4 separate regions of the Homo sapiens genome follow, and all the other regions are linked to region 3. Evidence: fine-mapped QTL for protein levels in blood plasma. A gene starts in region 3. Each other region holds a variant in brackets. All regions are shown on one strand. Distances are from middle to middle.

Region 1 (8,106 bases), 130 kb before region 3:
CTTAAGAGATCCTCCTGCCTCAGCCTCCCAAGTAGCTGGGACTACAGGCTCCAGCCACCGCACCAAACTTCTTTTGTTCACTGGTACTTCTCTTCCATCTAATATTCTCTTTTATTCTGTGACTCCTGTTATATAAATATTGAAACATTATGTCTATCTCCTTCCCTCATCTTTTATTTCATGAATTTATCTTTTTGTCTGTGTCCTTTGAGCAATTATATTAATTCTTTTGATCTAACAATTCATTAAATCAGGTTTCAGTAGCATATATGCTGTAGTTCTATTTTATTCTGGTGATACAGTCGTTCTTTTATTTTCAAGGACTGTTTCTTATTCTCCCAGTATTTCATTTCATGCTTCTTTTACTCTCTGAAATTTTACTGAGAATACCAATTTGCTTTCTTTTCCTTGTTTCCAGTGGAGTTGGATGAAAATACAAATTTGAATCTTTAAAAGTTATCTCCTGTTTTCTGTAATCATTCTTTCGAAACAGAAGCCATTGGCTCTGATTAACTGTTGATTCCCTTTTGGAGGCTGCTAGATCTCCTCAAATGATTAATTGGTGTTTGTTGTTCTGTACTGATGTTCATAAATATGAAAGCCCACATTGAAAGGACTGATAGGTCTTCTGGGTGCTGTCAGCAACTGCACAAGTCTCTATGAGCTTCCCCCCAGCCTTTTCCCAGCTTATTTCTGTTTCAGCCTCTACTGGCACTTTCCTGTGGCTATCAGCCTCAGGAGGGACTCGAAGACAGGCCCTGCCTTTGCTGCTGTGGTTATAGGATAGCCAATCATAGCAGGTTTCTATCTTCCAGAAAGTCCTCAAAGTTTCTGCCAGGTTGAGATAGTTCTTCCTTTTTTAACAAGGGGTTGCAGGTCTTTTTTTGTTTGTTTTTTGTTTTTTCTCTGTTGTTTTTATCATTTCAGTAAGGTTTGAGGAAAGTATTGTAAGCTCAAAGTGTTATCTTGAAGTAAACCTTGTGTGACTTCCTGCTAGATTGGGCCTGATACTGCAGTCTCTGGGGTGCCCCGCCCATAAACCCCCAAGTTCCCACTGCCAGCATCCACGTGTCTGCCTGAGAGCATTCTGTGGCAGCTGAGCCCACTCTGTCGTGTGCAGCAGGCCAGAAGTACTGGAATCTCATCCAGTGCCTCGCCCTCCTGTTTTTCAAAGACTGAGAGGGGTTGGTGTATGAAGACCATAACATCCTTGTCCCTTTGGTTGGAAACTCTGAGGTGCCAGACTGCACGGGCTCCCAGAACCCTTAAGAGGACAGTGTGATCTAGTCACTCACAGTGAGAACTAGATGCACCCTTTAAAATCTTCCTTCCCATCCCTGTCTCATTTCTCTGCTCTCTTACCTTGTTTCTTGGGATCGCCTTGCAGAGAAATTAATGAATCCTCCTCTAAAGGGAAACTCAAATCAAAACACTAAGTATGACAGGCTTTCTAGAAAGCTCTCTCCCCTGGTGTGGAGAATGAACTGGAGGAGATGGAACTGTAGAGGCCAGGAGATGTGAGCAACAGTCCTAGGGAAGATAAGAAAAGAGCCAGCACCACATTGCCTCAAGGGAAGACCACCACGTGCAACGCTTTGAAAGGCCGAGGCAGGAGAATTTTGTGAGGCCAGGAGTTCAAGACCAGCCTGAGCAACATTGCAAGACCTTGTCTCTACAAACATATATATGTACTAAACATACATATATTAGTACATATGCATATATATATATATGTATATGTACTAAAAATTAGCCAGGCCTGGTGGCACACACCTGTAGTCCTAGCTACTCAGGAGGCTGAGGTGGGAGAATCACTTGAGCCCAGGAATTAAGGCTGCAATGAGCCATGATCACACCACTGTATTCTACCCTGGGTTAAAGAGTGAGATCCTGTCTCAAAAAAAAAAAAAAAAAAAAATCAAAGTAGTCATCATAAAAATATCCCAACTCTGCAGAGCTTCCTAGCACTTATTTTATGGTTTATTGTTGTTATTTTTATTACTAAGGAGACACTTAGTCAATATCGTTGAATAAATAAAAGATTCCTAGGCTCCTGGCTGGATGGTGGAGCCACTCACTAAGAGAAGGACCAGAGGAAAAGGCACAAGTTTGGAAGGAGAGGAGAGGGAGGCAATTTCCTCCCACAAACATATCAGATAACAGGGTGCTCTGGGTCCTTCTTGGAACTCAGGGCCCCCAGCAGGCTCATGCAGGGGGATGATGAGATGACTAAACAGTCGCTGTGGCATGTGTGCCTGTCTATCAGAAGGAATTCAGCCCTCTTGTCAGCAGCCGCTAATGAGCCAGATGATAACATTTTACTTGTTGGATTATGAAGGGCAGGAGCAGAGGGCCAGGATAGTCCAGACATTCGGGGTCGTGGGACAACGGATATTTACCAACAGCAGGCAGAGCTGTACTGCTATGTATACATTGAGTCCCAGCCCTGTGCCTGAAGACAGGCAGAGAAGCCAGGCAGATTGGAAGACACCAGCTAGGATGGTTGAAGGAGAGACCTTCCCCCAGCTCCTACTGAGAGACAACTGGAACAGGCCAAAGATAGCAAACACTGATTGGACGCTTACACGGGGCCAGAATGCTGTTCCCAGTGCTTCCTGTAAATTAACTGAAAGGAGAGTAGTTTCCATGAATGTCCCCCTTTTACAGATGAAGAAACTGAGCTGCAGGGAAGGACTGAGTGTGGAGGACTATTTTCAGTAACTTGGAGTTTTTCAGTAGCTTGGCTATGATTACATGGTTAGTAGGTGGCAGGACCAAAATTCAGACACAGACCAAGGCATCTCTCTATTTACCGGCCCTATAAATTGGAGTACAAGATGGAAAGCAAAAGGAGAAAATCAGTTAGTGGCTATCAAAGAGGTTTGAGGAGGCTCAGTGGTGTTTTGATGGACCAGGAGCTCAAGGGGTAACCAGAAAAGTACTTCTCCAGCTGTTAGGATAGACAAGGACTGCATGCATGTGCTTGTCCCCCACTGGTAGGGTTTCTGAGGAGGTGGAGAGCAGGTGGCAGGAAATATACAGGAGATTTGAAACAGTCTGTGGCATTAGAATGGACTTAGTAGATTTGAAAAGTGGGGGCATCATTTATCTTTGTACTCCCAAGTCCAAACATGATCCTGGGTACAAATTATTATTCAAGAAATATTTCTGAATGAGTGCACAAATAAACAAAAAACCTGCTTGATCTTTCTCAAACATGGATCCAATACCATCTCTTACCTCATTTAAATATTCCCAAGGTGCCCTACCAGTTGTGAAGCAGCAACATTGTCTCGGAGTTTGTCATCTTGCACCAAGAAGTTTAAGGACAGGGACACATGTGAGTGGGTCAAAGAACGGAAAGTTTAATAGGCAATAGGAAGGTGAGAGGAGAGCAGCCTTCCCTCTCATGAGGAAGAGGTGACTGAAACGGAAAACCTGCAGCAGATTTTATATGCATGCAGGCTTGAGGAGGCGGTGTCTGACTTAAGTAGGGCCCACAGATTGGTTTGACCAGATGCGACGTTTACATAGCACTTGGGGAAGGCTGGTCACCCCACCCTAATCTTATTCTGCAAATGGGCCTTCCACTTGGCCAGCGCCATCTTGTCTGCTCCTTACTGTACACGTGGCTGGCAAAGAGAAGGGAACATGGAGCCATCATTTTGATCATGCCTAGTCCCAGGTAGCCTTCTCCTATTGACACAAGTGCCAGCATTCACCTGTGCAAGCTTCCAGCTTGCTTGTCTATGTCTGCAGCTCAATTTTACAGGCTGCTCTTTGTTAGAAAAGAACATGATTGCCTGGGTGTGGTGGCTCACACCTGTAATCCCAACACTTTGGGAGGCCAAGGCGGGCGGATCATGAGGTCAGGAGATCGAGACCATCCTGGCCAACATGATGAAACCCTGTCTCTACTAAAAATACAAAAATTACCTGGGCATGGTGGCATGCTCCTGTAGTCCCAGCCACTCAGGAGGCTGAGGCAGGAGAATCGCTTGAACCTGGGAGGCGGAGGTTGCAGTGAGCTGAGATTGTGCCACTGCACTCCAGCCTGGTGACAGAGTGAGACTCCATCTCAAAAAAAAAAAAAAAAGAAGAAGAAGAAGAAGAGAAAGAACTTGATTTTGGGGCTGCTTTTCATTAAAAGGAAAACCTTACTGAGGATTCCTGTACCCTCACTATCTGCCTAAGTACTTTCTTCTTAACTACTACGTCAGTTGCAGGATAAAGTCTAAATGCCTCATCCTGGATTTCAAGGCCAGCATGATCTCACCTCTGTCTATTATTTCACTGCAACGTCCCCCACACTTGATCTTCCCTGCTGCTGTGTGTGGTAGAATCTATTTTGTTGGCCCTGTCAACCTTCTATCCCTCATTTTCAGGTCATTGCAAATCCCCATGCATTTTGGATGGAGGAATTATTCCTTCTGCCCAACTCATTTCTGGGGTGGGGGCTGCCAAACACAGTCATGGGCCTGTGATACAGTTGGAACCAATCAGAGTCCTTTCCAGGAATTCGTATCATCCCAGTGGGAGAGGAAGTCTTCTCTTTCCTCTGGAGCCACTCTCTGGGGTGGTGGAATAACATAAGCCTAGAGCTGTTTGCAGACATCTCTGCCGCATGAATCTTGTCCTCACTTGGATGGAAGGAGCCATATTCACAGAAAAAGAGAAGCAAGACAGATAGACATAGTCTTACACACACACACACACACACACACACACACACACA[C/G]ACACATACACACACCGAGAGAGAGAACAGAGTGAGTGACCACATTGTCATGCCACGTTGCTTGAGTCTCTGCATCCCCGTCCTACCTGGTTTCATGAGCCAATACATTTCTTTAAAAAAAACAAACAAACAAAAAAACTTGTGAATTTGAGTTGTGTTCCCTTTATGGACTAATAGAAAGTGTCTTGACTGCTATTCAGCTGTACTGGATTGCTGATGGTTCCCAGAATTCCACGCTGTCTCTGACTTACACCCTTTACAGGTTCAAGAGACACCATGCTAGCCACATGAAGTCCAGGAGGAGACGGGAAATGCAAGGATGGCTCCTGCAGCCCATTCTCCTTGTTCCCTGGGTTTTTCTTCGGTCTACTCTATGTGGCCACGTCCAGGTTGCCAGGGGGATTCTCCTGGACCACCTCCTTCATGCTCTCCCCACATACCTGCTCAGACCCTCTGCTCCTGTGCACCCTCCAGAGTCTGCCACCTTATGGAGCCTGGCCCCTGACATGGGCTGGCAGCTGTTTCTATCCCTCTGGTTCTGTTGCTGGGTAGGGGCTTTGGCTGCTGCAGGCTTCAGACCCTGAGGGTGTGCAGTATGGACTCACAGCAAGTCTCCAAAAGACCTCTAGCACGATAAAGATGAATTACTCGTGACAATTCTTCCCTCCCTTATCATGCCTGAGACTGTTAATTGGCTCAGCATTCAGGCACATTTGAGACATCCAGGCATGGGATAGAGTGAAGGCTTAGAGGCCCTTCCGCCATTGTGTTTCAACTGTGTAACAAGACTCGGATGCTACACATGTCAGGTGTTCAGAGGAGGAAGTATGAGGAAAGGCAGGCAGGTTTGGGAGCTGGGGGATATCACAGATGTGCTGGCCGTTGGCAGAAGGGCCAGGCTAGGCCCGGAGTGTTTAAGGCTTTCCTGAGATGGGGTGGGGCTCCGATGACACAGCCTGCAGAGGAGCCTCTGTGGCTTGTCTGAGTGACCTTGAGGATACCAGGGTGACGGTTTTCAACATGTGACGGGAAAGCTTGGGCAAGGGCTGGTGTTTAGTGAATGTCAGGTCCAGGATTTTGACACTCATTCTCCAAGTCTAAATGGGGCTGGGGCTGACTCAGGGCCTCCTTCTGGGTCAGCCGGTTATACCTCCTCTGGTGCATGGAGAGGCCTGAATGGCAATGCCATAAGCCTCAATACTCTTTCCAGGGTTAGCAAATGAGGTCTCCCTGACTTTGGGCTCCTCCCCAAAACCCCAACTCACATTGCCTCTTCTGTAACTCTGGGCCAGGTGGGCTGTGACAGAAATGGACGGTGTCTGCGCTTCGTGGCCTTGGTAGCCTCCTGCCCGCCTTCCCCTTGCAGTTCCTGTCCATACCAAGCACCCCCAGCCCTCATCACTCAACGGATGGGCTGGTCCTCAAAAACCACCTCTCGGGCTTTCCAGCCTCAAACAGTCTTCATTCTGTGACTCATTAGGAAGATTCTCACCACTCATGTATTTATGCAGCCCCTACATGGAGATTCTGGGCTGCCTTTTTTTCTTTGTTTTTCCTCTTTGATTTCCTTCCTACTTCAAGGATTCTGAGGGCGGATTCACTTTGCTGAGCTTCTGGGCCAGCCCAGCTGAATGGGAGGAAATATCCCAGCATACTTCTTGCCTGGTGATTATGTTTCTCCTAGAGGGTCAGACCAAGAGCCAGAGAATCACATGCTTGCAGCTGGGAGGGAGCAGAGAGGCAGGCTTGCATAGGGGTTCCTTGGGAAGATCATAGGCCCCGACGTGAGGCAGACCCTGAGTCTGAAACCAGCCCTGCCATTCACCAGTGTATGATCTGGAACAAGTAACTCCCTGAGCTTTGACTTTTTTTTTTTTTTTGCATTGTAAAGTAGAGATTAAAAAACTACTTTGCAGGGTTATTATGAAAATGAAATGGGATATATCAGAAGTCTGATATTTAATGACTGGTAGCCAATACTATGCTTGTCTTATCCCAATCTCCTTGAGAGACAGAGGCCGACTTGCCCAAAGTCATGCCCTGAGACGGTGGCAGAATCACAGCTCATCCTGTTTCCCACTCTGAGGCTCTACACAACCTACACTGGCCCCACTAGGTGGAAGACAACAGCCAGGGCAGATGAGCATGATGGGAAAACGTTTCAGTTCTCTGATCATCGCCTGGGGGCAGCACAAGTGGCAGGATTAGCAAACCCACCCCAGGTCTGCTTCCACATCAGTGATGGAGAATAAAGGAACTAGCGGGAAAAAGTCAAATGAAGAAAGCACCCGGAAAAGATGTTTTTATGTTCACTTACATGGAAAAAAAATCCAATTATACAACATGTAGATATATGTTTCTCAGAAAATTCATCTCTATGAACCTGTTTGTTTCAGTCGCAGTTATAATTCAACAATTGCCAAATGGAAGTCATAAAATTGTGGGGTGGGGGTTGGGGAGGAGAGCCGCCAAGGGGAAGGTAGTAATTATGTGCTATTTCTTTTCTAGTTTCAGATTATTTGGAGTTTCAACTTTTCCAGCAAGTCAGAGTTACATAAACAGACACCATACTAAAATATGATTGTGTAAAAATATAAAATTCCTAAAGCATGATGGCAATAATATTTTAGGGAAAAAAACATTAGAGTCTGATAGCATCAGAAAATACAAATAGGATCATTTGAGCAGTCCTGTTTCTGTGTACGAACAGCAGTTGCAAATGATGGATGTACGTGAAAGAAAAAAGCATTTGATCTGTATATAACTTAGAAAGGGTAACATTTCTAAACACTGACTTTATAAGAAAACATGAAGGACATCTTACACTCAACAACAATGGTTTAAAAGGAGGATATAACTGTCTGAAGGATGCAGTGGCAGAATGCCATGGCCTTTGTTTTCAACTTGCTCTTAACCTATGTTGGGATGCGTTCACACTGCTGGGGTTTCCTGCAGAATCTAGCACCAATATATGGATCAGATTTTGTCTTTGATCTGAGTCCTCTATGTCTTCAGTTTTGAGTGTATTGAGGTATGTTTTCTTTGGTTGCTGTTGTAAAGAATATGTAGTAAAAAAAAAAAACTGTAATATTTACAACAATTAAACATTTTAGATTTCAGTGTCAACTCTTCACATAAGAAAAAATTGAAAACTCTTTAAGAATCATCAGAAGGCCATTACTTCCTAGCGTCTGTCATGAAACTGTTTTCGATACATAGGACAATTAGCCGATTAGCACAGCTGTATGCTTTCTGGTCCAGAATCTTCCCCGTGCTCAGCGGGGAGGCAAGTCCCGTGACCGCTGTGTCCGCGGTTCGCCATGCTTCACAGTAGTTATCCACAAGGCGGACGCCATGGGGGCTGGAGCCAT
Region 2 (8,106 bases), 600 kb before region 3:
TAATCTAATAAAATACAAATCTGACTACACCAAGCTCATTCTTAAAGGATTTAAATAATTGAATGGTATCTATAGAAACATGTCTAGGCTCTTCACATATAAGGGCTTCCATGATCTAATATCTGTAGATGTCTTTGTCTCATCAATCAATCCTCCTACTTGACTCTTTCTGCTTTGGCAACAAGGAACTCCATGGAGTTCACATTCCCCACCACCCCAACCAGGCAGGACTGACTACAGATATTTGCTCATGTTCTTCCCTTGTCTGTAATTCATCACCATTTTTCTCTATCTTTTATGTGGCTCAATCTCAGTCATTCTTTAAGACTCAGTTTATAAGCCCTCCTCATGTTTCTTAGCTGATATTTGAGCCTTTCCTCAGAGCTTCCATAACATCCTGTATATTCCTCTGTCAAATTACTTTACACTGTCTTCTCTGTTTATCTTCCCACCACATTGTATGCTTCTTGATATCTCATTCAATTTTCTATTCCTCTTGCCCTTCCTAGTGCCGGATATCTAGAAGGTGCTTGGAAACACTTTGGACTTGGAATTATACTAGAATTCAAATCCTTTTTCTTCCATGCATTGTTCTAAGACATACATAAGTCACCTTACCTGTCTGAGCCATGCTTCCTTATCTATAAAGATTCTTTTGTTTTTCAAGAAAAAACTAAAGATCAAATGAGAAAACATATAAATATTCCTTGTAAATTATAAAGTACTATGAAAATATTTTATTATATAGAATGTGCAGAAAGATATAGATAAAAAACATCTTTCATGTTATGAATCCTGTACAAATTTCAACAAAACATCATATTTATTAAAAAATCTACATAAGCATTCTTATATCAGTGTGTGCTATGGTTTGAATGTTTGTGTCCCTCCAAAATTCATATTCCTCTAATGTAATACTATTATAAGATGGGGCCTTTTGGGAAGTGATGAAGTCATGAGGGTTCCACCTTCATGAATGAGATTAATGAGAGCTGCCTAGTCTTTTGCTGTTCCACTATTTCACCATGTGAGGACACCTAATTCTTCAATGCCAGACACCAATAAACATCCATGAGCATTAAGAATATTTGGAAAACATGACCTGAACAAATGAACTGAATAAGACATCAGGGTCCAATCTCAGAGAGAAAGAGATATGTGACCTTTCAGACAAATAATTTCAAACAACTGTTTTGAGGAAACTCAATGAAATCTAAGATAACACAGAGAAAGAATTTAAAATACTATCAGATAAATTTAACAAAAAGATTGAAATAAAGAGAATCTGGCAGAAATTCTGGAGTTGAAAAATGCAATTGATAAACTGAAGAATGTATCAGAGTTTCCTGATAGAAGAATTTATTCTGCAGAAGAAAGAATCAGTGAGCTTGAAGACAGGCTATTTGAAAACATACGGTCAGAGGACACAAAAGAAAAAAGAATAAAAAAGAATGAAGTATGCTTACAAGATCTAGAATATAGTCTCAAAAGTCTCAAAATCTAAGAGTTATTGACCTTAAAAAGAAGGTAGAGAGACAGATTGGGGTAGAAAGTTTATTCAAAGGGATAATAACAGAGAACCTCTCAAGAGAAGAAAGATATCAATATTGAAGTTCTATAAGATTATAGAATACCAAGCAGTTTTAACCTAAAGAAGAATATCTCAAATCATTTTAATAATTAAACTCCCAAAGGTCAAGGATAAAGAGAGGATCCTAAAAGCAGCAAGAAAGAAGAAACAAATAACATACCATGGAACTCCAATATATTTGGCAGCAGACTTTTCAGTGGAAACCTTACAGGCCTGGAGACAGTGGCATGGCATATTTGAAGTGCTGAAGGAAAAAAAAAATCTTATGCTAGAGTGGTGTATCTGGTGAAAATATCCTTCAAACATGAGGGAGAAATACTTTTCCAGATAAACCAAACCCGAGGGATTTCATCAACACCAGACCTGTCCTACACGAAATGCTAAAAGGAGTTCTTCAATCTGAAAGGAAAAGTTAATGAGGAATAAGAAATCATCTGAAGGTACAAAACTCACTGGTAATAGTAAGTACACAGAAAAGCAGAGAATGTTATAACACTAATTGTGTTGTGCAAGCTACTCATATCCTAGGTAGAAAGATGAAACGATGAACTGGATCAAAATAGTAACTACAACAACTTTTCAAGACATATCCAGTACAATAAAATATAAATAGAAGCAACAAAAAGTTAAAAAATGGGGGGAGAAAATTAAAGTGTAGAGTTTTCTCTTTGTTTATTTATGCAATCAGTGTTAAGTTGTCATCAGTTTAAAATAATGCGTTATAAGAAATCATTTGCAAGCCACATGAAGAAACATACAATGGATACATGAAAAATAAAAAGCAAGAAATTAAATCATCCCACCAGGGAAAATCACCTTCACTAAAAGGAAGACAGGAAGGAAGGAAAAAAAGACCACAAAACAACCAGAAAACAAGTCACAAAATGGCAGGAGTAAGTCCTTACTTATTAATAATAATATTGAATGTAAATGGACTAAACTCTCCAATTAAAAGACATGCAGTGGCTTAATGAATAAAAAACAAGACCCAATGATCTGTTGCCTACAAGAAATATGCTTCACCTATAAAGGCACACATAGACTGAAAATAAAGGGATGGAAAAAGGTATTCTATGCCAAAAGAAACAAAAAATGAGCAAGAGTAGCTATACTGTATCAGACAAAATTAATTTCAAGACAAAAACTATAAAGAGAAACAAAGAAGGTCATTATACAATGATAAACAGGTAAATTTAGCAAGAAGATGAAACAATTGTAAATATATATGTGCCCAAAACTGGAGCACTCAGCTAGATAAAGCAAATATTATTAGAGCTAAGTAGATAGACCCTGAATACAATAATAGCTAGAGGCTTCAACACCCCACTTTCAGCACTGGACAGATCATCCAGAGAGAAAATCAACAAAGAAACAATGAACTTAATCTGCACCATAGACCAAATGGACCTAGTAGATATTTATAGAACATTTCATCCAATGGCTACTAAATACACATACTTTTACTCAGCACATGGATCTTTCTCAAGTATAGGCCATGTATTAAGCCACAAAACAAGCCTTAAAACATTTTTAAAGATTTGAAATAATATCAAGTATCTTCTCTGATCACAATGGAATAAAACTAGAAATTAATAAAAAGAGGAATTTTACAAACTACATAAACACATGGAAATGAAACAACATGCTTCTGAATGACAAGTTGGTCAATGACTAAATTAATTAAGAAATTTAAAAAATTCTTGAAACAAATGATAATGGAAACACAACATACCAAAACCTATGGGATACAGTGAAAGTATTACTAAGAGGGAAGCTTATAGGTATAAATGCCTACATCAAAAAAATAGAAAACTTCAAATAAACAACCCAATGATACGTCTTAAAGAACTGGAAAAGCAAGAGCAAACCAAACTCAAAATTAGTCAAAGAAATGAAATAATAAAAATAGGAGCAAAAATAAAATTAAAATGAATAAAACAATATAAAAGATTGACAAAATGAAAAGTTGTTTTTTGAAAAGATAAACAAAATCAACAAACCTTTAGCCGGACTAAGAAAAAAAAAAAGACCCAAATCAATAAGATCAGAGATGCAGAGATGAAAAAGAAGACATTACAACAAATACCACAGAAATTCAAAGGATTATTAGAGGCTGCTGTGAGCAACTGTATGCCAATAAATTGGAAAACCTAGAAGAAATGGATAAATTCCTACCAAGATTGAACTATGAACAAATCTAAAACCTGAATAGACCAATAACAAGTAATGAGAGCAAAGCTGTAATAAAATGTCTCCCAGCAAAGAAAGCCCAGGACATGATTATTTCACTGTTGAATTTTACCAAACATTTACAGAAGAACTAATACTGATTCATTCACACTATTCTGAAAAATAGAGGAGGAGGAAATACTTCCAAAAATGTATTCTACAAGGCTGATATTACACTGATACTAAAGCTAGATGAAGACACATTAAAAAAAGAAAAGAAAACTACGGGCCAATATCCCTGGATGAACACTGATGCAAAAATCCTCAACAAAATACTAGCAAACAAAATTCAACAATTCATTAGAAAGATCATTCATCATAACCAAATGGGATTTATCCCAGGGATGCAAGGATGATTCAACATATGCAAGTCAATCAGTGTGATACATCTTATCAACAGAATGAAGGACAAAACCCATATGATCATTTCAATTGATGCTGAGAAAGCATTTGATAAATTTTAACATCCCCTCATGATAAAAACCCTAAAAAACAGGGTAATAAAAGGAACATACCTCATCATAATAAAAGCCATATGTGACAGACCCACAGCTAGAATTATACTGAATGGGGAAAAACTGAAAGCCTTTCCTCTGAGATCTGGGACAAGACAAAGATACCCACTTTCACCAGTTATTCAATATAGTACTGTAAGTCCTAGATCGAGCAATCAGACAAGAGAAAGAAATAAAGGGCATCCAAACTGGAAAGGAAGAAGTCAAATTATTCTTGTTTGCAGATGTTATGATCTTGTATTTGGAAAAAACTAATGACTCCACCAAAATGCTATTAGAAATGATAAACAAATTCAGTAAAGTTGCAGAATACAAAATCAACGTACAAAAATCAATA[G/A]CATTTCTATATGCCAACAGTGGGTAATCTGAAAAAGAAATCAAGAAATTAATCCCAGTTACCATAGTTACAAATAAAATAAAATACTTAGCAATTAATCAAAGAAGGGAAGGATTTCTACAATGAAAACTATAAAATATATTGATGAGAGAAATTGAAGAGGACATAATAAAATGGAAAAATATACCATGTTCATAGATTAGAAGGGTCAATATTGTTAAAATATCCAAACTACCTAAAGCAATCTATAGATTCAAAGTAGTTCCTATCAAAATATCAATGACATCCTTCACAAAAATGGAAAAAAAACAATCCTAAAGTTTTTTTGGCCACAAAAGACCCAGAATAGCCAAAGCTATCCTGAGTAAAAAGAACAAAATTGGAGGAATTATGTTGTATGACTTCAAATTATATTACAGAGCTATAACAACCAAAATGTCATGCTACTGTCATAAAAATAGACACATAGACTAATGGAACAGAATAGAGAACTGAAAAATAAATCCGTTCATCTACAGTGAACTCATTTCCAACAAAGGTGCTAAGAAAATGCATCGAGGAAAGGACAGTTTCTTTAAGAAATGGTGCTGAAAAAACTGTGTATCCATATGCAGAAGAATGAAACTAGACTATCTCTTGCTATATAAAGAATCAAATCAAAATGGATTAAATACTTAAATCTAAGTCCTCAAACTATGAAACCACTAAAAGAAAACTTTGGGGAGACCTCCAGGAAAATGGTCTGGGTAAAGATTTCTTGAGTAATACCCCACAAGCACAGGCAACCAAAGCAAAAATGGACAAATGGGATTGCCTCAAGTTAAAAAGCTTCTGCACAGCAAAGAAAACAATCAACAAAGTGAAGAGACAACCCATAGAATGGGAGAAAATATTTGCAAATTACCCATCTGACAAGGGATTAATAATCAGAGTATATAAGGAGCTCAAACAACTCTATAGGAAAAAAGTCGAATAATCTGATTGAAAATGGGCAAAAGATCTGTATAGACACGTCTCAAATAAAAACATACAAATGGCAAACAGATACACAAAAAGGTGCTCAACATCATTGATCATCAGAGAAATGTAAATCTGAACTACAATGAGATATCATCTTACCCCAGTTGAAATGGCTTTTATCCAAAAGATGGGTAATAACAAATGCTGCTGAGAATGTGGAGAAAAGGGAATCCGCATACACTGTTAGTAGGAATGTAAATTAGTACAACCGCTATTCAGAACAGTTTGGAGCTTCCTCAAAAAACTAAAAATAAAACTACTATACAATCCAGCAATCCCACTGCTAGGTATATACCCACAAAAAAGGGAATTAGTAAATATCAAAGTGGTATCGGCACTACTATGTTTATTGCAGGACTATTCACAATAGCCAAGATTTGGAAGCATCCTGAGTGTCTATCAGCAGATGAATGGATGAAGAAAATTTGGTACATATTCACAATGGAGTACTATTCAGCCATAAAAAAGAATGAGATACTGTCATTTGCAGCAACATGAATGGAAGTGGAGGTCATTATGTTAAGTGAAATGAGCCAGGCACAGAAAGGCGAACTTTGTATGTTTTGACTTATTTGTGGGAGCTAAAAATTAAAACAATTGAACTCATGAAGATAGTAGAATAATGGTTACCAGAGGCTGGGAAGGGTAGTGGAGGAGTGGGGGGAAAGTGGGGCTGCTCAATGAGTCCAAAAACAAAATAGAAAGAATAGATAAGTTCTAGCATTTGATAGCACAACAGGATGGCTATAGTCAATAATAGTTGTATTTTAAAATAACTTAAAGAGTATATAATTGGATTGTTTGTAACACAAAGGTTACGCTTGAGGTGATGGATGCCCCACTTACCCTGATATGATTATTATTCATTGTATACCTGTATCAAAATATCTCATGTGCCCCATAAATATGTACACATACTATGTAACCACAAAAATTAGAAATTAAAAAAGAAGAGAAATAATATTAATCAATAAATAAGATTCAGTAACAGATAAGTATACCATTTCCCTTAAACCTTGCTTTACAAAAAGGCAATAGGAAGTCACTGAAGGTTTTGGAGTAGGAAATTGACATAATTAAAGTAGCATTTAACATTTTTTAAAGAAGAAAGAAAAAGTGCTTTCAAAAGAGAATATCAAGGGTGCAGCCAAGAGACCCTTTTGTTAAGAAGATTAATATGGCTAGAAGGAAGCCAGGTGCTGTTCATCAAAATAAAGAAGAATGACCCTGAAGGCATTTTAGAAATCTTTAAGGCTGGCATTCTTATCATAGGCCCAGAGGGCCAGGGATTTGAGGTCAGTTTCAAGGGAAGGACTGAGGATGCCCATGGGACCTAAGGGCTCACTGTCCAAGGATGCCTCATGTTTCTTTCCATGCATTCCAGCACAGGGGTCTTCAGCCAGCCCAGATATGGCTGCAATGGTGCAGTATGATGTGCCATCACATCCCCACCCTACCCCAAGAAGGGCACAGGCTGTAAACCTTGGTGGTGTTCATGTGGTGCAAACTCTGCAGGCACACAGAATGTAGGAGCTGTGAGGACAGGAGCACCACAGAGTCTCCATTAGGGCAATGTCTACTGGAGCCATGGGGTAGGGCTACCCCTGAGACTCCAGACTTAGAGCTGCCAGCATGCAATTACAGACTGGGAGAGCTGAGGCAGGGACTGCTCCCAGCAAAGCTACAGGGGCAGGGTTGCTTGAAGCTTTCAGAGCCCAACCCCTGCCCCAGTGTGTCTGGAAGATGGAATATGGAGTCAAAGAAAATTATTCTCCAGCCTTAAGATTTAATATTGTTTGTCTTGTTGGATTTTGGACTTTCTTGGGACTTGCTACCTGTTTCTTCTTCCCTGTTTGTCCCTTTTGCAATGGGAATGTCTATTCTATGCCATTCCACCGTGTATTTTAGAAGCATATAACTTGGTTGATTTCACAGGCTCACAGCTGGAGGGGAATTTGCCTCAGGATGAATTGTGTCTTGAGTTGCACCCATATCAGATTTAGAAGAGTTTGGACTTCGACTTTAAAGTTGATGCTGAAATAAGTTAAGACTTTTGGGGCTATTTGGTTGGAATGAATGTGTTTTATTTGTGAGAAGGACATGAATTTTTTGAAGCAGGAAGGGGCAGAATGCTATGATTTGAATGTTTGTTTCCTTCCAAAATTCATGTTGAAACTTAATCCCTAATGCAATAGTATTAAGATATGGGGCCTTTTGGGAAATGACTAAGTTATGAGAGCTCTGTCCTCATGAATGTGCCTTCGGAGAGCTGCCTGACTGTTTTTATTCTTCAACCCCTCCACCATGTGAGGATACCTATATGTCACCATCTATTAGGACTGGGACTCATCAAACACTAAATCTGTCTGTGCCTTGATCTTGGGCTTCTCAGCTCCAGAACTGTGAGGAAATAT
Region 3 (8,100 bases):
AATCCAGCTACTCAGGAGGCTGAGGAAGGAGGATCCCTTGAGCCCAGGACTTTGAGGCTTCAATGAGCTAAGATTGTACCACTGCACTACAGCCTGGGCAACAGAGAAGACCCTGTCCCAAAAAATAATAATAGAATAAAAATGGCACTAGCCTATGCAAAAGCACAGGTGTGGGACGTTGCATGTCCCATTCAGAAGCCTGCCAGTGATTTGATGTGAGCTGAAGTCCATAGGGACTTAGTGTTAGTGGAGGAAGGCAGGGTCCTCTGGGGCCAGGAGCATGACTCCATCTCAGGTACAGTGAGAACCCAGTGAGGGCAATTATACTAGGAAGCATCATGATTAAATAAGAAAAATCCATCTAAATACATAGTAAGAACTGTCCAACCAGTTCTGTTCTTTGATGGGTGAGTTCTTTGGGGGGAAATATTGCCAAAGGAAATAATCCAAAAGAAAAAGGCCATTTGTCTGAAGATGTCCCAGCAGCACTATTTATAATAATGACAAATTGCTAAAGTCCAGCTCTGGACAAAGTGGCCAGCTCTAGACAATTGTCCTTTGGGAGATGGAGACTGCAGGTCAATGAGGCAAAACTTCAGGTGTGACTCCTACCCACATCTCTCTCACTCAGAAAAGCAAATCAGACTGCCAGGGAGCAAGAGTGGGGTGGTTAGAGGGAAGTTCTGCGCTGCTCTGATTCATATGCTTCCCATTAAATCAGGATTTCTCCAGAGAAGATGGTGGCCAAGAAGCACTTGAAAAAATGCGCAACGTCATTTGTCATTAGAAAATTGCAAATAGGCCAGGCACAGTGGCTCACGCCTGTAATCCCAGCACTTTGGGAGGCCGAGGTGGGTGGATCATGAGGTCAGGAGTTCGAGACCAACATGACCAATATGGTGAAACTGTATCTCTACTAAAAATACAGAAATGAGCTGGGCATGCCTGTAGTCTCAGCTACTCGGGAGGCTAAGGCAGGAGAATTGCTTGAACCTGGGAGGTGGAGGTTGCAGTGAGCCAAGATGGGCCGGCCACCAACTCCAGCCTGGGTGACAGAGTGAGACTCTGTCAAAAGAAAGAAAGAAAGGAAGAGAGAGAGGGAGGGAGGGAGGAAGGAAGGAAGGAAGGAAGGAAGGAAGGAAGGAAGGAAGGGGAAGGGAAGGGAAGGGAAGGAAGGAAGGGAAGGGAAGGAAGGAAGGAAGGGAGGGAGGGAAGGAAGGAGGGAAGGGAGGGAGGGAAGGAAGGAGGGAAGGAAGGAGAAAGAAAAAAGAAAGAAAGAAAGAATTGCAAATAAAAACCACAATGAGATGCCATTTTATATCCACTAAAATGGCTATAATTTTAAAAACTGAAAACAAGCATTGGCGATGATGTGCATAATTAAAGCCCTCATACATTGCTGGTGGGGATGTAAACATGGTGCAGCCACTGTGGAAAACAGTTTGGGGGTTCGTCATACTTGAAACACAGAATTATCATATGACCAGAAATTCTGCTCCTAGGTGCAAAGAAGTAGAAACAGGCCGTCAAGCATCCGAATACTTGTATGCAAATGTTCAGAGCAGCACTATTCACAAAAAACAAAAGGTAGAAATAACCCAAATGTCCATCAACAAATGAATGGAAAAACAAAATTTGGTATATACATACACTGGAATATTACTCAGTCATAAAAAGGCATGAAGTACTGACACATGATACAACATGAGTGAACCATGAAAACTTTATGTTAAATGGAAGAAGTCAGACACAATAGGTCATACACTGTATGATTCCATTTTCATGAAATATCTAGAATAGGCAAGTCCATAGAGGCAGAAAGTAGTTTAGTGACTGCCTGAAGCTGAGAAAATGAGGGAATGGGGAGCAATTGATTAATGGGCATAGATATTTCTTTTGGGGTGATGAAAATGTTTTGGAACTTGATAGAGATGTTGATTGCACAATATTGTGAAGGAACTAAATGACACTGAATTGTGCACTTCAAAATGGTTACTGTTATATAATGTAAATTTCACCTCAATAAAAAGTAAGTCTGGATATCTAAATGGTCAATAAACATATGAAAAGGTAATTAATAATTAGGAAAATGGAAATTAAGGCTACAGTAAGATCAAATATGCACCCATTAGAAATGCTGAAGTTAAGCTCAGTGACAAGATCAAGTGCTGGTGAGGATGTGAAGAAATGGAGGCCCTCATTTCTTGGTAGCTGTGTGGATCTGTACAACCATTTAGAAGACATGCTGGCATTGTCTACTCAGTTGGGGGATATGCACACTCTGATTCAGCACTCCACTCGTAGGTATAGAACCAACAGAAATTCATGCACATGTGCACTGAGAGAAATGTACAAGAATGTTCAGAGCGACACTATTACATTAGCCCAAAATGGAAACAACCCAAATGTTGGAGAAGAATGGATAAGTAACATATGCTATGCTAATGCAATGGACTATTATACAGCAATGGCAATGAACTACAGCCACATACAGCAGCATGAATAAATCTCAAAAACTTATTATTCATTGAAAGAATCAGACATGAAAGAATAGATTCTGCATTTAAAAAGTTCAAAATCGAGTAAAACAGAACTTCAGAATTTTGGGATACACACTTAGATAGTAAAGCTATTTTTAAAAAGCAAGAAAGGGATGACTGTTAATGTCAAGGTAATGGTTACCTCAGAGAGAAAGAAGGGAAAATAAAACCACAGCAAAGGGGTTTAGGAGACCTTCTGGGGATTATCCTATATCTTCATCTGGATTACATGTTTGCTCTGTGATACAAGATTGTACTGTACCTTTAGCATGCACTTTTCTGAATGGATGTTGTATTTCACAATAAAACAGTTTAAACATAAGCAAATAATTTGCAATCATCAACACTTTATTAGCAAGAGCAAATTACTTGTGACACCACCATCCCTACCTGGACAATAGCCCCCTTATCTTCTAAAATATTGGGTATTCCAATGACCCTGAAACTTTACCAGGAAAAGGAAGGATTGGTGTTGTCCTCCAGCTCAACCCTGACCATTGGAGGTACAAGAGGCCATGTGGGTGACACCCACTGACAAGTGTCTCTTTTTTTTTTTTTTTTTTTTTGAGACAGAGTCTCCCTCTGTTGCCAGGCTGGAGTGCAGTGGCGCGATCTTGGCTCACTGCAACCTCCGCCTCCCAGGTTCAAGCTATTCTCCTGCCTCAGCCTCCCAAGTAGCTGGGACTACAGGCGCCCGCCACCATGCCTGGCTAATTTTTTGTATTTTTAGTAGAGACAGGGTTTCACCGTGTTAGCTAGGATGGTCTCAATCTCCTGACCTAATGATCTGCCCGCCCCAGCCTCCCAAAGTGCTGGGATTACAGGTGTGAGCCACCGCGCCCGGCCGACAAGTGTGTCTTTAAACAGGATGGTGTAGAAGGATGGGATTGGCTGCACACAGGACATTCTGCATGGTAGATGAGAAGACTTCAGGAAAAATGGCATTACAGTTGTCTGTGGCCCTTTCTTTCTTCCTGTGAACTATGACCCCTTTGGGGCAGCTCTGTGCCCAAATCCTTTCTGTACCCAGCCAGCATGAGGGCCAGCACAGAATGGGTTTGTTGAACTAAACTATGTGAAATAATCAAACCTCAAACTAGAAAAATATTATTTTGTTTTGTTTCCCAACATTTTAAATTAGGACTACAGAGATGAGTGACTCTTGCCTCTCCACTTCGTAGATGGGAAAACAGGCTCAGAGTGGGAAAAGCAACTCATCTAAGTTCATGGAGGAAGTCAGTGAGTGGAACCCAGGTTTTCCAATACCTGAACTTGTGCTGTTTTAGGGCGTGCAGGATATCAGGAAGTTTACAAAGACCCACTTTTTAACAGATCAACTACCTGCAAAAAACCCATATGCATGTGTTCTACCCCTACCTGAGGAGCCCTGTCCTGGGCCCACAATGGCATTCAGGGATAGTAGGGAGAGTCGATCCAGAGACCTGGAGGTGCAGGCAGAACTCTGGACCCATTTTCTGAGAGAATCAATGCCCTAAGAGGCCAGCAGCTTTTAAGTTGTGAGCTGTGTGCCAGCTCTGTACCAGGCTGGCTAGGAACCCCACCTTGAAGCCCCACCAGATCTGGGGCCTAGATGCTCTGGGAAAATACATTCTTTTATTTAAGAAGCAGCTTTATTGAGGCATAGCTTACATTCCATAAAATTCACCCATTTTAAATGTATAGTTAGATTATTTTAGTAAATTTATAGAGTTGCACAACTACCACCACAATCCAGTTTTAGAACACTCCCCAAAAAGTTTCCTCATGCCCCTTTGCAGTCAATCTCTGCTTCTGTTTTCTGTCTCTGTGGTTCTGCCTTTACAGAAATCTCATATATAGGGACTCTTACAATGTATTGCTTTTTAATGTCTGGCTTCTTTTACTTAGCTTAATGGTATTAAGGTTTATCCATGTTGTTGTAGCATTGATCAATACTTCATTCCTTTTTATTGCTGAGTAGTATTCCATTAAATGGATACACCTCATTTGTTTATCTATTCACCAGCTAATGGTGAATTTAACTTTATTTCCAGTTTTGGTCATTATAAATAATGCTGCTATGAACATACATATGAGTTTTTGGGTGGCCATATGCTTTCCTTTCCCTTAAGTAGATACTTAGGAGTGGAAGTTCTAGATTGTAGGGTAAGTATATATTTAACATTTTAAGAAACTGCCAAATCGTTGGGAACATGTATTTCCGCTCATAACAGCCCACTTACAAACATGCTTTCAGAAGCCACCCCACTTAAGCATACAGCATAGTGGTTACAAGTACAGATTCTGGAGTCAGACCCTCTGGGCTCAAATTGTGCTTATATTACTGAAGGCTACATGCCCTTGGGCAAAAGACTGTGCCTCAGTTTCCTCATCTGTAAAAGGGGATAAGACATGGGGTTGTTGTGATGATTGACTGAGCTCATTCATGGCAGGGCACTTAAAACACTGCTGGTTCATAGTGCTATGAAGTCTTGGCAATTGTTTTTTATAGCCAGTTGGGCAGTGGTCCTATGGAAGGAACAGCACCAGCCCAGAAGTTCACAGACGTGAGAGGGCTATTATGGATCTACCCAGTTACAGTCATGCGGCCTTGAGGAAGTCACATCCCCTCTGTAAGACAGAGCCCAATTTACTTCTCAGCACTGCTGGGTGGTGATTCCAGGGACGTGGTGAAGGTGACATTGTGCTTTGAAGACTGCACAATGCCATGCAATGGACTCATGTTACAATTGTGACATTCAGATTGTGGGGCTCATTGGAGACCATGGAACCCCTAAAGCCTTCTCCATCCGTGAAGCTCTTCTAACTACACACTAGGATGGTTAAGAGCAAGGACTCTGGAGTCAGACTGTCTGGTTCAAATCCCACCCCAGCCACTTAGAAGTCTTGTGACTTTGGACCTCTGTTTCTTCATCTGAAAAACAGAGATAGTAACTGTTCTCAGTCCTCACCTCCTGGAGTGGTTGTAAGGATTGGATGAATGAAATATGAACATGTTCACACCTCCACCTGGATATACAAAGTGTTTTATAAGTATTAGGGATATTAAATTGCATTACAAATGCAGTTTGCAGGAGGATAGTTTACATTTTTAGGAATCGTTTCACATCCCCAAAGGGGCACTGAAAACCCATCAGTTGCAAATGGCCCTCCTTAGACCGTTCTCAGCTCCTGAAGGTTTGCTGGCCCTCCCTTTTTACATTATAAATGGGAATAGGGCTTCCTTTGTGTTAGAAACAACAGCCCTGACACTGAGGGATCCCAGAGACACACACAGGAGGAGAAAGAAACACCAAAGTTCCTATCCCCAGATCCATCTTCCTTTTGGGAAACTGGAAGTTGCAGCAAAGTTCACAAAAGACCATGGAACCCAAAGTTGGCCTCTGCCACTGAGTTGGCAGGGCCCTATATCATATGCAAAATTGCAACTTTCTGACATGAGCCATGGGGCTGAGAAGCTAAAACTATACTCCAGCTGCCCTTTGATCTGCAATAAATGCCAGGCTGGACACTCTGGCAGGAAAAGCTATCATCGGATTTGGGTCTTGTTGCCCAGGAGACAATGGGCTGTCTTGGGCTTCTTCAGGCAAACAAAGAGTTAACCAAGGCCACCTTCTCAATCCCGTTTCCTTTGGGCCGACTAGAGGTTGTTTCCTAGACTTTCTGTTCCCTTATTCAATTGAAGATGTGTACTAATCCCCCAAATTCAAAGGGGAGGGGGTCAGAAGCTATAGAAAGCATGGCTCTTCTGCAAAACTGCATGGAGAAAGAGCTGAGCAAGGGCAAGAGCCTACAGACCTGGATTCAAGTCCTGGCTTTTGGACTGGCCACTTTCTAAGCTTCTCTCAACCTCAATGTTATAAAAATACCTGCATTGCGATGGGATTAATAGAAGCCCAAACCTCAGCACCGTGCAATATACCCTTGTAAAAAACCACACATGACCACTCCCTGAATCTAAAATAAAAATAAAAATACTTGCATTGCTTTCCAACACATAGTTACTGCAAGAATCAAGCAGTAATTTCTATCACTTATTTTGTGCCTAGTATATACTGGAATCATGGGAAGCACATTATTTCTAATTTCTCTAATATTCACAACATTTCTAGGAAGGTAAAATGGTCTAATTAATCGCCTTTTTCAGATGGGGAAACTGAGGCACAGAGCGATGAAATCCATTGCCCAAGATCACTCAGCCAGCCACAGTTCAAACCCAGGCAGTCTGACCTTAACCGAGGCCCATTTTAACTTAGGTCTACTTTAACTTATATCTTACTATTCAGCCAACCGCCTGAGTTCTGCTGGAGAAACTGAGGCCCGGGGAACGGAAGGGATCAGATCTCTGGCTTCCAGGCCACAGCTCTTTCCACCACCGGTGGAGCCACTGCCCATGATAGACGTGACCGCTTAGGTAACTCAGAGCTGGGTTAAGCAACCGAGCAATTCAGTTCCGTTATTTCTTGAGCAGCAAAAGCCCCAGATGTCCCTCCCGGTGTTCATGCTTCGCACCTGTGTGCGGAGAGGCACCAGACCTGCCCTTACCAGAAGCCAGCCAGCACGCACAACCTAAGCTGCTGGCGCTGGGTGCGCTGAGGCTGTTGGCGCTGGCGCTGGCGCTGTTTCTGAAGTCCCTCTCTGCCTAAGATTGGAGGCTCCGCACCCAGCTCAGACATCTCGGGTGCCCAGACAACGCTCCAACCGCCCCAGCTGCCCAGGGATCCCATTCACAGCTATAACCCCTGCACTGCCAGGAGGTAGCCGCCCGCGGGACCGCCAGTGCGCACTGAGTGGCAAGACTCCCTTTTATGTCCAGGAATGAGGCACGCATCGCAGCCGCGTCCGCCGCCAAAACCGACTTCCCCCACGGGCGCGGAGGCAGCCGGTGCCACCCTCCGACCGGGTTGCTTACCTGTCGCACCGCGGGTCTGGGTGACAGCAGGGAGGGGCGTGGAGACCGAGAGCAGCATCAGCAGACACCAGCACTGCCCGTTGTTCCTCCTGCAAGATGTGCCCGAGGGAGAAAAGGTGAGGCGGGCAAGAGTATTGGAGGGGCCCGGGACGCGAGGAAGCAGAGAAGCGGGTCTTACCTTGGTGCCATCTCGCGGGTCTGCGGAGCCCCGGAAGGCGCGCGGCTAGTCGAGCAGAGCGTTGGAGCTTAGCGGAGGACGAAGGGTCGCTGAGCGCTGGCCGCCGCGCTCGCCCTTCCTGCAGGGAACAAAGGCGGCGCTCGGCAGCGGCGGCGGCGGGCAGAATCCCGGCTCCCGGCCCGCGCCCCGAGTCACCCGCGCTCTGAAACCCGACTCCGCCGCGCCCTGCGCTCCCCCGCGCGCTGCGCACTCACGCCCGGGGGATACCGGCCGCCCCGGCCGCCTCCCCACGCCCCTTTCCCCCTCGACGGACGTGCGCTCGCCTCTGCTGCCTCCACCCGCGGCTGCCTTATGTAACCTGCGAGGAAAGCCCCGCGCCCGCGTTCGTTGGGGCAAGCGGGATGGGCTCCCTCCCGCCCTTAAGTCTGTCCTGTCGGGGCTGACCCGCAAGAAAGCACTCTTTCACAGCC
Region 4 (8,106 bases), 67 kb after region 3:
CATAGTGACGCGTTATTCTTGGAGAAGGATTGAGTCTGAGGTCAAATGAGAGGTAGAGGGGAGAAAACTCCAGCAAAATGTGGAACAGTGGAAAAAGGCCTGGGCTAAAGACTTGGGTTCTCAATCCAGTGATACCAACAAGTGATTGTACAAGCCTGAGCAGGTCCCTTCCACCCACTGAACTTCGGCTTCCTCACCTGAAAAATGAAGATGATAAGTCATATTCTAACGAGCACACATTGTTGTCATTTTGATCAAATAAAATAATATAAATGAAAGTGTGTCCCAAAGTGTAGAATGCAACCAAAATACAAGAGGATTATTATGATTATTGCTAGCAGTCCTTTGAGGACACTTAATTTATGACTCCCCAAGGAATCAAGTCAGAGCATAACATGAGGTCAACACACCTAGGGACATAAATGTCAGAAGTGGCTTGTTATAAAACTAATTGCTATTTCGTGGATTCACTTATAATGATCCCAGCAACATTTTTCCAGGCAGAACAATTTTTTTTCTCTGTCATCAGGTCTCTCCCTCTTCCCACCCATAATCAATCAGGGCTTTCAACTAGGGTCACCCCTACCCTATCAAAACCTGCTCTCAAGGAATTATCCATTGACTGGCACTAAAGAAAAAGTTCCAATAAAGCTTGAAATGCTTCCTTCCCAGGGTTGCTTGCCACTCTTCAACCAAGGATCAAATCCTCTGCCAAAGGAGAGGATGTCTCATGGGGTATTGGGGACACAAGGATCACATTCAAAGCGGTACTGAAAGGAGGTTGTCTCATGGAGGGTTGGGAGCACGAGGATCACACTCAAAGAGGTGCTGAAAGGAGGGTGTCTCATGGGCAGTTGGGGGCACAAGGAAACACTCAAAGAGGTATTGAAATGAGGGTGTCTCATGGGGTGTTGGGGGCATGAGGAGCACACACTGAAAGAAGTCCTGAGAGTGAAACGAGCCAGTCACACAAGAATAAACATCATATGATTCCACTTACAGGAGGTCTCTAGAGAAGTCAGATTCATAGAGTCAGAAATTAGAATGGTGATTTCCAGGGCCTTGGAGGAAGGAATGGGAAGCTGTTGTTTCATGGGTACAGAGTTTCAGTTTTGCAAGATAAAAAGTTTTCTGGAAAATTCTGGATGGTGGTAATGGTTGCACAACAAACAACATGTGTGTACTTAACACACTGAAGTATACTCTTAAAATAATTAAGATGGTAAATTTTATACATATGTTAGTAGAATTACTCATGATGATGATGATGATGATGATGATAAATAGTATCAAAGAAGTTCAGATTCAGGGTGCTTGTCTTGGTGCTCTAGAAATCACCCCACAGAGGGAGCCTGTTATACACACACTTGTGCTCACTTGTACACACACACTTGCACATGTACAGACACACACAGCCCTGCCCAACCTTCTTCTGTCAGCTAGGCAAGGAGAGCTGAGCCCAGTTATTTGGGCCAGTTTAGGGTTCACTCTGGAACTTTTAATAGTCAAAGAAATCTTTGTTCTCACTGTGCGACCATTTCTCATCCCAGTTAGCTCTTACATAAGACATATTTCGGATCTGATATATTGGGGAGAAAAAAAACATTACCCATTTTACTCATTTTGAATAAACTAAAAATAACTATCTTTCCCATTTCCTGGAGTCAATAACGACTGTTTAGAAAGGACAGGGGAAAGAAAGACATGGAATATGGGGAAAAAGCCATGGGCTGAGCATACAGGAGCCTGCTTCAAAACCTGTCTTTCCCCCTCATCTGCTGTGTGACCTTGGGCACATCCCTGACCCTCTCTGGGCCTCAGGCACCTCGTCTATGGAATGAGAGGGCTGTGTTGGAATCCTCTGGCCTTTGAGGTCCCTTCAATTCTCATAGTCTAGTTTTTGGTGAGAAGTAGGACTAGGGGTTGAGGCATCTTATTTTGCTGGCCATCTAGTAGATGAATCATTTTTATTATTCCAAAAATTTTCCAAATGAATTTTGATGTGATCCTTCTTGGTAAGAAACAGCTAATGACATCTCTCCTCCCATTCCTGGTCTAGTGTCTAGAAATAGTCTCCGTGAGTAATTTCTACTCACAATTCCCACTTCCTTGACTCCTGCTCCCTCCCCTGCAGTCTGGTTTCCGACTCCCCAGTCCTTTAAAACTGTTCTTGTCAAGGTCACCATAACCTCCTGTGACTGAGTCCAATAGACATACCTCAGTCCTTTTCTTCCTTGGCCTTTCAGGAACATCTCAACACAGGTGAACACCTTCTCTTTCTTGAGATACTCTCCTCTGTGGGGCTGAGAGGGAAAATAGCCTGCCCTCCTGGAGTCCCCAGGGTCACCACTAGGATTTGAGTGCCCACCATGTTAGTGCCAAAGTCTGTAACTAGTACAACATGATTTGCGGCCACTTGCCTTCCTGTTGCGCTCACATTGCCACCAAATTCTAGATTCACTGGGTGATTCATTTCTTCAGTCATTCAACAACGATTTGTCCAGAGCCAACTATTTCCCAGGCACTATGTGAGGCAATGGGAATACGGTAAGGCCAGCATGGCCTCTGCCCTCCTGGCATTTATAATCCATTGCAAGAGCCAGGCATCAAATGGGAGAGGACGAGACCCATGTATAACTACAAATATGATGAGTTCTCCAAAGAAAAAGCACCCGGGGCTCTGAAAGATGAGATGGGGGACAGACAAGGCATCAGGATGGAGAGTGACAGGACACCAAGATCTGAAAGAGGGGAGGCAGCCAGCAGGAGCAGTGGGTGGGGAGGGCGGGAGTGCAGCAGGCACAGGGGACTGCCAGCACCTTGAACGGGGGACCTGGATGGCTCAACATCATCACACACCAATAGCACCCTGAATTTCTGAGATGGAGGGTTTGGGAGATGCACATGAAGATGCTGGAGGAGCTAAACCCCCACCCTGCCCTCCCATCCTCACCCACTGGGGCTGCTTCTTGTCACCCTTGGACAATGCAAGCTCCAGAAGAGGCTGTAGTTTGGACTGCTGAAGGGTCTGAAAGGGGTCAGGGTGAGTGAGAGGACACAGTAAGGTGGGGTGCAGGAAGAGGACAACCCAACGAGTCATCCAGTTATGCTTTGGAAAAAACAGTCCACTGATCTGTGGAGACTGGGGGCAAGGGGTGGGAGGAAGGGTAAATCATGGATGCCTCTTCTTTTGTTAAAAAAATTATTTTTTTTTGAGATGGAGTCTTGCTCCGTTGCCCAGGCTGGAGTGCAGTGGCATGATCTTGGTTCACTGCAACCTTGCCTCTCGAGTTCAAGCAATTCTCCCGCCTCAGCCTCCCAAGTAGCTGGGATTACAGGTGCGTGCCACCACACCCGACTAATTTTTGTATTTTTAGTAGAGATGGGGTTTCACCATGTTAGCCAGGCTGGTCTCAAACTCCCGACCTCAGGTGATCCACCCGCCTCGGTCTCCCATATGTTTTGTTTTACTTATTTATTTTGTTAACTTTTATTTTAGGGTCAGGGGTATATATGCAGGTTTGTTATATAGGTAAATTGAGTGTCACAGGGGGTTGCTGTACAGATTATTTTGCCACCAAGACAATGAGCATAGCACCCAACTCACCCTCCTCCCATCCACTACCTTCAAGTAGGCTCCTGTGCCTGTTGTTCCCCTCCTCGGGGCCACGTGTCCTTGATGTTTAGCTCCCACTTACAAGTGAGAGCATGTGGTATTTGCTCTACTGTTCCTGCTTTAGTTTTCTTAGGATAGTGGAGGGCCAATTCTTTTGTGCTGACCTTGCTTGGTTCCAACAGGCATAGAATTATAAATATTTTGCCAAGAGGGAGAACACAAAATGCTTTTCCTCAGCATCGTTGTTGAGAGTGGGCTCTCCTGGCCTCATCACTAAGCCCTCGAGGCCCTTCAAGATGACCTGATCCCATGTCCTCCATGCACAGATGAGGACAGAACACCGCAGCTGGGGAGGTTCAGGACCTCCCCACGGCCACGCAGCTGCCAACTGGCCCAGGCAGAACACAAGTCTGCATGACTCCAAAGTCCACAGCTGTTCACACATCACCTTAGATGCCACCTGGGCCAGCCTGCTCTGTTTTACAGATGAGGAAACTGAGCCTCAAAGAGAGGGAGCCACTTTCTCCAGGAACAGACCTCCATCTCTGGAGGCTCAGCTCTGCTCCTTCTGCTCCAAGCTGCCTCCTTGTAGGTGGCAGAAGAGAAAGTGTCCCCTAAATAAATGCCATGAGCATGCAGCTGTGAACAAAACAATGTCCCCGAGCTGGGTGTCCAACGTCCCAAGGCCATGTGAGGAAAGAGGTTGTTGCCTTTCCGAGAAGGGGGCAGCTGCTGTGGAGCTGGAGCATTGCTCGGCCTCCAGCCTCTCCCAGGAACATAAAACTCAGGAACGAAGGAACGTTGGGCAGGAGCC[CA/A]TGGGAATGAGGCCCACATTCCCCTCTCCAGGGGCTGCCTTGGCCGCTGATTATGCTCCCAACAAAATCCTTGCTGAACATCTGTATCGTGCAGGGAACTGATGCCTGGCCTCCCCTGCCATAAGGGGCTCGGCACAAGACCCCAATTCTGGGGCTGTCACCTCTGACCCCACAGAGACCCTGACTCTCAGCGGCCATATTCTGACCCTGAAAATCTGGAGTGAGTTAGGGAGAATTTAGACAGATGTGGCTCCTTCCAGTTTCCTGTGGAAATTAAGTGAAACCAGGAGGCATCTCATTCAGGGGAAAAGATGAGAGATGTGAGGAAAACAGAGGAAATAAATACATGAGGTGTTTGTTTGCAAAGCAGTTGTTTCTTCCATGCTCAGCACTCCTCAGAAGGGAGCTGACTTCTGGCAGGGCACTTTGCTGCAAAGCAAGTCCCTGATCAGCTGTCTTCCACCCCTCACTCCCACCACAAAGAGCCCACAGCTCTTTGCGCTCAATGCTCCTGCACACTTCTAGTACTTTGCACAAGCTATTTCCTCTGCTTGGAATGCTGTTCCCTCTCTTCTCTTTCTGGAGAACCTCTATGCAGCCCACATGGATCAACTCAAGACGTAATCCTCTGACTCCCTTCCTCCCACCTTTCCAAGCAAAAGAGGTGGCTGCTTCTTTGAGTCCACCCATCACCCTGTAAACCCCTCCATGGTGATCTTGTCACATGGACTTGAGGGCATGTCTACATGCCCTCTGTCTCCCTTGCTAGTCTACAGCAGACAGTGTGTCTTAATCATCTCTGTATCCACAGTGCCTGGCAGAAAGCCTGGTACAGAAAATGAACTCAATAAGCGTTCAAAGTTTGGATAGAAGGAGAGGGGAGAAATGGCAGGAGGGAAGGAAAGAAGCAGAAGTAAAGAAAAAAAAAATTGGCTTTAGAGTATTTGCAAGTCCCTCTCTTCTTCCCTATTGATTTGAGCCTGTATCTGCCTCTTCTAAATAAAATGCCTCAAAAAAACTCATTGATTAGGCTGTGACAAGGCTCAGCTGAGCAACACATATAACACGGCGTATGCAGAATAGGAGTTCATCTCTCACTCACATGAAAGTCCTTCTGGCCAGATGTGGTGGCTCATGCCTGAAATCCTAGCACTTTGGGAGGTCAAGGTGGGCGGATCATGAGGTCAGGAGTTTGACAGCAGACTGACCAACATGGTGAAACCTCGTGTCTACCAAAAATACAAAAATTAGCCGGGCGTGGTGATGCGCGCCTGTAATCCCAGCTACTCTGGAGGCTGAGGCAGGAGAATTGCTTGAACTCGGGAGGCGGAGGTTCCAGTGAGCTGAGACTGCACCACTGCACTCCAGCCTGGGTGACACAAAGAGACTCCATCTCAAAAAAAAAAAGAAAAAAAGAAAGTCTTTCTGAGGAGGCTGAGGCAGCTCTTTGAAGTCATCAGGGGCCCAGGCTGCTTCTGTCTTATTGCTCTGCCATCCCAAGGGGCTGTACTCATCCAGGTATCCCAGATAGCGCCCCACACATCTATGCTCCATCCACGGAGCAGGTAACGAAAGAGGACACACTCCTCTCTTCAAAGGCACAACTGGAAATTGAGTACAAGAGTCCCTCTTATCTGTGGGGGATGCGTTCCAAGACCCCCAGTGAATGCCTGAAACTGCAGATAGTACCAAACCTATATACACTATGTTTTTCCTATACATACATACCTATGATAAAGTTTAATTTATAAATGAGGCACCGTGAAAGACTAGCAATGTAACTAATAAAATAGAACAATTATAATAATACACAGTAATAAAAAAATATGTGAACGTGACTTCCCTCTCTCTCTCTCGCTCTCTCTCTCTCTCTCTCTCTCTCTCTCTCCCCAAATCACTTACCGTTCTGGACTTTGGGTAACAGAAACTGTGGGAAGTGTGGATAAGCAGAGACTATTGCACGCTGCTTGCCCAGTCCTTCCATGTAGCGCAAGACAGGCTGGGAATTATGGTCTCATGCTGAGCATCTGCACACCAAGGTGAAAGTTTTATTTCCATGTAAAAGGGATGAAATGGATTTTGGAAACAACCAGAAATCTTTTCCAAAACAACAACACACAGAAAGAGAATACCCTTCCAAGCCCCAACATTGACCTTATACATTTCACCATCCCAACAAATCTGTGAGGAAACTGAAGCTCAGGGTGGAAATGCCTTTGGCTGAGGGCACTATGAGCAGTAAAGGAGCATGATTGAAAACCAAATATCTGGTATAAACTGGGATTTCCATCTAAAACCTCACAAATACTACAAAGAGGAAAGGGGAGATGTGACTGCACAGCTGTTTACAGGGAGACAATCTGGGAGTCTGAGTTGACCCCCAGCTCAGTGTATCTGCTGTGTTATGTTTGTCTCCAGAGCTACATTAATGGGGGCCAACATCCAGAACAAACGGGATGAGCGATCTGCTCTCCTTGGGCTGGCCAGACTGCACCTGGAATTCTGTGTTTTGGGGGCCAGCCCTTAATGAGAACAATGAGAAACAGGAATGGGCCTGGGGCCAAGACAGGCTGGGAAGGGTCTGGATGCCCGCCCTGCGAAGAAAGAGCCACAGCTGAACACCATGGAGAGGGGCGAACTCCAGGGGATGTAGATCCTTAGCTTCTCATCTGTGTCACAGAGAGGACATGGTGACCTCATTCCAGGTGGCTCTGAGGAGCAGAACAATGACCCATGGAAAGAAGCCACTGGGAGGCAGAGTCGGCTCCAATAAAAAGAGGTAACTGGGGTGGTGCACCGAAGCCCCGGGCAGGCACGGCAGAAAGTAAGAACTCATCCCCCAGGGTGTGCACCAAGGGCGGAGGTGCTGTAGAGCCTTCTAAGGCAGAATCTTGCACCTGGAGGCTCCTGCAGCTGAGAATGGTCAGGTGTGTCTATGTGTGTGTGCACACAGGTGTGCTCTCCTAGTGACAGGGGCCATGGCTCCCTTGAGGCTCTCCAAGGAGTTTGTGACTCAAACCAGGGTCAATGGACTGGCCCACTGGGTCCTTCCAGGGCCCCTGCCTGCTTTAAAATCCCATGACCAGGCCGGTCGCCATGGCTCATGCTTATAATCCTAGCACTTTGGGAGGCAGAGGTGGATGGATCACTTGAAGCCAGGAGTTCGAGACTAGCCTGGCTAACATGGTGAAACCCCATCTCTAGTAAAAAAAAAAATACAAAAATTAGCCAGGTGTGGTGGCATGCACCTGTAATCCTAGCTACTCGAGAGGCTGAGCCAGGAGAATCACTTGCACCTGGGAGGCAGAGGTTGCAGTGAGCCAAGATAGCACCAGTGCACTCCAGCCTGGATGACAGAGTGAGACTCTGTCTCAAAAAAAAAAAAAAAAAAAAAATCCCATGACTGCCAGTGTAGACGCACAAGTGTCCCGATGATGAAGAATAGGTAAAGAGAGCTCAGAGTGGCAGAAGGAAACTGGGGGCTTACCGGGACTGAAAATGGCTCTGTGAGCTCCACTCCCCAGAGCAGAGTGTGCCCCAAAATCCAACCGCAGGAACCACCCACTTGGCAAGCTTGGAGCATATGCTCCTCCCCTTGCTGAGGCTGGAGTATCTCCAGAACCCCATCTGCAAAGGGTCCAGGGGTTCCACATTCATCACACACCAGCCTTGGTG

Alleles and levels. Positions count from the first base shown, and alleles are read on the strand shown. Strength reflects both the effect of a copy and how common the allele is.
For the plasma level of the protein whose gene starts at base 7,796 in region 3, allele C in region 1 goes with a higher level than allele G (weak association).
As copies of G replace A in region 2, the plasma level of the protein whose gene starts at base 7,796 in region 3 goes up (weak association).
For the plasma level of the protein whose gene starts at base 7,796 in region 3, A is the high allele of the variant in region 4 and CA is the other (moderate association).

Evidence for each region. PIP is the chance, under the fine-mapping model, that this variant and not a neighbour inherited with it causes the effect. Protein levels are from antibody-based Olink assays in UK Biobank. Linkage for the fine-mapping came from a reference panel and not from the study's own genotypes, which makes the PIPs less certain.
Region 1: its variant is fine-mapped to the plasma level of the COL15A1 protein (UK Biobank, PIP 0.97).
Region 2: its variant is fine-mapped to the plasma level of the COL15A1 protein (UK Biobank, PIP above 0.99).
Region 4: its variant is fine-mapped to the plasma level of the COL15A1 protein (UK Biobank, PIP 0.99).

What each region holds. Positions count from the first base shown.
Region 1 is chr9:99,069,693-99,077,798 of GRCh38, reverse strand. COL15A1 (collagen type XV alpha 1 chain) reads right to left here. Exons shown (of 42, transcript NM_001855.5): 42 at 7,012-8,106. The coding sequence ends at 7,913. Among named protein-coding and RNA genes, the nearest start is that of TGFBR1, 31 kb to the left of the region's middle. RefSeq lists a cis regulatory region at 1,957-2,675 and enhancers at 5,060-5,560, 5,561-6,061. The variant C/G (reference allele first, on the strand shown) is at 4,736.
Region 2 is chr9:99,544,464-99,552,569 of GRCh38, reverse strand. No RefSeq gene overlaps it. Among named protein-coding and RNA genes, the nearest start is that of NAMA, 170 kb to the right of the region's middle. The variant G/A (reference allele first, on the strand shown) is at 4,673.
Region 3 is chr9:98,943,603-98,951,702 of GRCh38, reverse strand. It overlaps COL15A1 (collagen type XV alpha 1 chain), which reads right to left and starts at 7,796. Exons shown (of 42, transcript NM_001855.5): 1 at 7,631-7,796; 2 at 7,453-7,541. The coding sequence starts at 7,641. It overlaps COL15A1-AS1 (COL15A1 antisense RNA 1), which reads left to right and starts at 7,051. Exons shown (of 1, transcript NR_198999.1): 1 at 7,051-8,100.
Region 4 is chr9:98,876,406-98,884,511 of GRCh38, reverse strand. It overlaps LOC102724684 (a long non-coding RNA gene), which reads left to right and starts at 7,179. Exons shown (of 3, transcript XR_930168.2): 1 at 7,179-7,210. The variant CA/A (reference allele first, on the strand shown) is at 4,431.